2 separate regions of the Homo sapiens genome follow, and region 1 is linked to region 2. Evidence: fine-mapped expression QTL. Tissue or cell type: whole blood. Region 2 holds a variant in brackets; the other region holds the start of a gene. All regions are shown on one strand. Distances are from middle to middle. Region 1 holds the start of DICER1 (dicer 1, ribonuclease III). Region 2 overlaps DICER1-AS1 (DICER1 antisense RNA 1).

What was found. PIP is the estimated chance that this variant, and not a neighbour inherited with it, causes the effect.
Region 1: it holds the start of DICER1, and the variant in region 2 is fine-mapped to the expression of DICER1 in whole blood (TOPMed, PIP 0.93).

The regions. Positions count from the first base shown.
Region 1 is chr14:95,156,075-95,158,574 of GRCh38, forward strand. DICER1 (dicer 1, ribonuclease III) reads right to left here and starts at 1,455. Exons shown (of 27, transcript NM_177438.3): 1 at 1,156-1,455. It overlaps DICER1-AS1 (DICER1 antisense RNA 1), which reads left to right and starts at 1,614. Exons shown (of 4, transcript NR_015415.1): 1 at 1,614-1,784; 2 at 2,119-2,160. RefSeq lists silencers at 746-1,105, 1,166-1,625 and enhancers at 1,716-1,815, 1,856-1,925.
Region 2 is chr14:95,178,026-95,180,997 of GRCh38, forward strand. It overlaps DICER1-AS1 (DICER1 antisense RNA 1), which reads left to right. Exons shown (of 4, transcript NR_015415.1): 4 at 1,479-1,908. Among named protein-coding and RNA genes, the nearest start is that of DICER1-AS1, 22 kb to the left of the region's middle. The variant G/T (reference allele first, on the strand shown) is at 1,658.

The sequences.
Region 1 (2,500 bases), 22 kb before region 2:
TGTATATTTTTATTTAGAAAACTTAACGTTTACACCAATACATATTCAATATAGCTAACCTGTTTTAACAGCACATTTTTAACAATATTTTCCGAGTTGCTTAAATCCTAACCTGAGTCCTTTTCCACTGTTTGAAAACAAGCACCACGAAGACACCTGACAATCAGGATTGTAAAGATTCAGAATATTCGAAGACAGAAGCATAGGCGTCCAAGTGATCCTCTTTCATCAGATGAATGTTTTTAAAACCTGAAAGTCCTAAGAACACTTACTTATCGTGTAGACCAGTAACGTGTCCCTTTAACCACAACTCTCTCCACAAAAGCACGGAGTTAACACTACACAAATAGGACCCTCCAACTCATCTCCACGTTTCCGCGGATCTTCAGGTTCCTAAGGACACACTCAGTGGTTTGCTGGCTCTGACCTCCAGGCAGAGCCATCAGGGCAACTCAGCTTTTCTGGACAATCTACAGAAATCTGATGTGCTAACTTAAAACATACACTGATTTCCCCAAAATCAAAAACCCTGAAGAAAGGGTCCTCCGCAGGGTCTAGGCATTTTGGCACAAAAACATCTGAGGGGAGAGGCAAAAGAATGGCCTCGGCCCCTGCCCGCCCCCCAGGGCCCCAATCTGGTCCCCTGACAGTAATCACACAGGACCCTCCCGGGAGGGACCGAGAGCCCAGCTTCGTCCCCTCCGGGCGCGGCACAGCGGCCCCATCAGAGGAGGGCCCCAGGGTGCTCCGGCAGGTCAGGCGCGCGTCTCCACCTCCGCTGCTCCCGCGCCACCTTAGCGCGCGTGACGGGACCTGTCAAGAGCCCCAGGCCTCGCCAGGCCGGGGAGTGGACAGGCGCCGGCATCCCCCACCACGCCACGGCGGCCCGGAAAGTCTCCCAGGGCTGCCTCGCGGGGAGGCGCCGGGGTCCGGGCCCAGGAGCAGAGCCGAGGCGGGCAGACGCCGGGTCCACAGGCCGCGCTGTGCGGGACGACGAGGCAGGCGAGGCCGCGCCCTTCGTCAGCGCCCGCCAGGCCCGGACGCGCGGCTCGGGGCCATGGCCGGCACGCGGGCCTCCGCGCGGAGGCGGGAGCGCGGCCAGGCGACCCGCTCCCCGCCCCGGACACAAAGCTGCTCCGCGGGAGCCCGCCTCACCTGCAGCACGGGGCGCCGCGGGCCTTCGAGAACCATCGGACCCCGCTCCGGCGCGCGCGTCACAGCCCAGGCCTCCCGGAGCCGCCCGGCGCCGCCGCCCCCGCCGCCATTTCCTCGCGCTCGCCGTCGCCTCGTCCCCGCTGTCAGGTTACTCCATTCACCTGGGCCTGCAGCAGCCTGCGCCGCGCCTCCGCCTCGACCCCTCCCGCCGGCGCCTGCGGAGACTGCGCAGCGCCCGGCTGGCCGGCAGCCAGCGCACGGCCCGCGGCAACGGCGCACAGCCGCTTGGAGAATCCCACTGGCTCCCGCACCGCCCCTCCGCGCCCCCACGCTCCGCTCGCCCCGTGGCGGCATGAGAGCGAGCCTGTGATTGGACAGGGCCTGGCGGTGAAAGGTTAATCCCGGCCCCCCAGCCACTCAGGAGCAGGGAGACAGCGGGCGCGCGCGCGGAGGCCGGAGAGGCGTTTGCGGCCCAGCGCCTGGACTGGACCTTGGCGTTGGGCCGCAGTTGCCCGGAGTTTTTGGGGCCCCCGGGAACCCGCGCGCCGAGGCCGGCTAAGTTTGGCAGACTCTCTGAGCTCTCGGAATTCGACTGCCTCCATTGTTGCTCCTTCTGGCACCCACAGACCGTAACGTGGCCGTAATTGTTTCCCGGAGAGCTTAGCTTCCCTCTGAGCACCTCCCTCCCCTTTTTAAAGTACCTTCCCACTCGCCTGCGTTTCCTCGCGTTAGTGGTGCAGGGGCCTCCGCATTTGGGGAAATAACAAACACCCACTTCCGCCCCCCACCCCAACCGGGATCCCCAGATAATGAGAAATAGATGGTGGCCCTCTGTTTGTAAGCTGTTCATTTGCATAGGTCGGAACCGCGCACCACAGCTTGAAGCTAGGAATTAAAATATCGGTGGGAATTAAATAAGTGGCTGGCTTAAAGAACATCTTCTTAATTTATCCCCAAATGTAGACATCTCTTCAGTGGACCCCCTGATAGGCCGGTTTGCTCCAGGTGAGGTGTGCTCACAGCAACTGCAACCGTGTTTCTTTCAGACCATGGGCGTGAGCAGAACCTACTATGCGCCCCTGCTGCCTGGGCTGTGCTGTTCAGTTTGGGGCCACCAGCCCCACATGGCTCCTGAGCACTTAAAGTATGGCTAGTCGGAATCGAGATATATGCATTCTTTACCAAATAATGTTCAAAAAATTGTTACATGTTGAAGTGATAAACTTTTTCCATATATTGGGATAAAAGTTTTATTTGTTTATTTTTTAGTGTGGGTTCTACAGAATTTTAAATGTCACCTGTGGCCTGCATTATATTGCCATTGGGCAGGCTGATCTAGGGCTTG
Region 2 (2,972 bases):
GTTAGGTTTATTTTTTATTTAAAAAAACATTTTTTTGAGACAGTCTCACTCTGTTGCCTAGGCTGGAGTGCAATGGCGCAATCTTGGCTCACTGTAACCTCTGCCTCCCAGGTTCAAGTGATTCTCCTACCTCAGCCTCCTGAGTGCCTGGGATTACAGGTGTGTGCCACCACACTTGGCTAACTTTCGTATTTTTAGTACAGGGTTTCACCATGTTGGCCAGGCTGGTCTCAAACTCCTGATCTCAAGTGATCCACCCGCCTCAGCTTCCCAAAGTGCTGGGATTACAGGCGTGAGCCACCATGCCCGGTCCTATTGTTAGTTTTTTGAGGAACCTCCAAACCATTCTCCATAGTGGTTGTACTAATTTACATTCCCAACAACAGCATACAAGGGTTCCCTTTTCTCCACATCCTCGCCCCCATTCCTTATTGCCTGTCTTTTGGATAGAAGCCATTTTAACTGGAGTGAGATGATATCTCATTGTGGTTTTAATTTGCATTTCTCTGATGATCACTGATGTTGAGCCCCTTTTCATATGCCTGTTTGCTATTTTTTTTTTTTTTTTTTCAGAAATGTCTATTGAGTTCTTTTTCCTATGGGGACTGTTATGATTTGCATTCACAGTTGAGGGAACTGAGGGCTGGGAATGTTGAGACTTTTCAGAGGTCCTAAAAGAATGGACCCCTGAGTCAATGGCACACGAAGCTCCCTGTCCAGCTTTCTTCCACATGGCAGGACGTAGGCCTCAGACTGGAACCCTGGCAGTCATTTTTGCCCTGTGGGTCTCTCTGAGCCCTGCCCACCAGAAGCAGCTGCAGATCCCATGGCCCAGGTCACATTCTCTTGGGGGCCACTTCTGGGGACACACAAGGAAGACTGATGTGCCAGAAACATTCCAGTGGCCCCGGGTTCCTATTCCAACTCTGCCTGCACTATCTTCATTCAATCATTCCTTCCAGCCTCAACCTTCTCATGGGAAGGACGCAACCACCCACCACAAAACTCACTGTGAGAGTCTTGTGATAGTATAGTATGTTCATAGCCTAGCGCCTGGGAGAGTGCTCAAGAATGGGTAGCTGTGAGCCTGGCAGGTAGTGCACACCTGTAGTCCCAGCTACTCAGGAGGCTGAGGCAGGAGGCTCCCTTGAGCTAAGGAGTTCAAAGCTGCAGTGAGCTATGATCGTGCCATTACACTCCAGCGTGAGCAACAGGGTGAGACACTGTCTCAAAAAAAAAAAAAAAAAAAAAAAAGAAAGAAATGGTAGTTGCTCTGGGTGAACTCCTTCAGAGGATGGATTTGATTTCATTACCATCTCTAAGCCCCAGACACCCTGCAGGCCTTCCATACAGGTATGTATAAGGAACAAGCTGCCCACATCACCCCTGACAACCAGGACTTAGACAAATGTCACCAAGGCTGCTAGATGCCTGCTGCCAACCAACAGCCCTTCTAACTTGTAATTCATTTAGCACAGGTTGGAGCTGAAGGAGTGCCCAGGCTGCGGATGGAGGAAGGACGTGCTCGGGAGAAGGTGAAGATGGGAGAGAAGCAAGATCTTCTGTGTTTGGACCAAGGACACATTTCCTTACTCCATAGCAGCTGTGGTCAGTGGCTTAGCTCGGACAAGGAGATGAGAGCCCATGTGTTGTGAGG[G/T]TTCTTCTGGGAACTCTGAGAAGGCAGGAGCCGCCCCCGCCCTTCACTGCCTCTCTTCCATTCTGCAGCATGGAATATGGATGTGTGGTCTGGATGTACAGACACCATTTTGGACCATAAAGACAAGGACGATTGTCTAAGGATGACACAGCCAGAGCACTGAGAGTGGCGAGAAGGACAGGGGAGCTGCTGTGCCAAGCAGGACTGTCTCTCTTAAGAGAAAAATAAAATTTATTGGTGTTTAAACCATTGCTTTTTTGGGCTGTCACGTCACTGGAATTAATCTGAAACGCTGCAGCAATTAATGGAAAAAATAGAACCCCATCTTCACGCTTTGAGCTTTTTATGGCATAACCACTCTGTCCAAAGTAATATACCACCAAGTTGAAACATGATTATGCTCAGCTGTTTACAGGCTTTGGAAATTTCAGTACAGGGTTTATCTTCCTGTCATACAGCCTGCCATTCCCCTTTTAATGTGGCCAGATCGTTTGATGTGTTTTCTCTTTGTCTCCATTCAAGCAGGGAGAAGGCTCTGTGCATCCAGGAAGGTTTGTGAAGGGCCTCCTGGTATCTGTATTCAAAAGATTTAAAATTCAAATACAGCAGGGAGAGTGGTCGGAAGACCCACTTCGGGGTGGCGTGTCAGAATGGGATTGGTGGGGGAGAGATCAGTCTGGGGGCTCCGCAGATGCCATGGGAATGGCCTCATGGTACACTGGGGACCTGAGATTCCAAAACTGGTCAGAGATGCCCAAGCCCAGTCAATCACGGCACAGCAGCAGAGCAGCTAAGGGGCCATGGGGGCTGCGCCCTACCAGTGCAGACAGAGGCACAGTCACCTCAGGGCACTTCAGTGCCACAGCCCGAGTACCCTTGGACAGGGAGAGGAAAAGGAGATGAGCAACGGGCGTCTCAAACTTAACATGCTCAGATTCAGGAACTCCGGGTCTTCCCCACCATCTGCTTCAGCCCCATTTCCCCATCAGCCAATGGCATCTTTATTCTTCCAGATCCTCAGGCCAAAACCTTGGAGCATTTTTCAATCCTTTTTCTCTTACACTGTACACCCAATCCATTTGCAAATCCAGAGGGTCTACTTTCAAAATACATCCAGAATAAAACCACTGTGGCCCACTTCCGCTGCACCCACCTGTGCCATTGTCATCTCTCCCGGACTGTTGAAATAGACTTCTGGCTGGCCTCTGCATTCTGCCCTCGTTCCCTGGAGTTTATTCTCATTATGGCAGCTGGGTTTAGCCTGCTAAAATGTAAGCTGACGTGTGCTCAAAATTCTCCAGTGGATCCCAGTTCA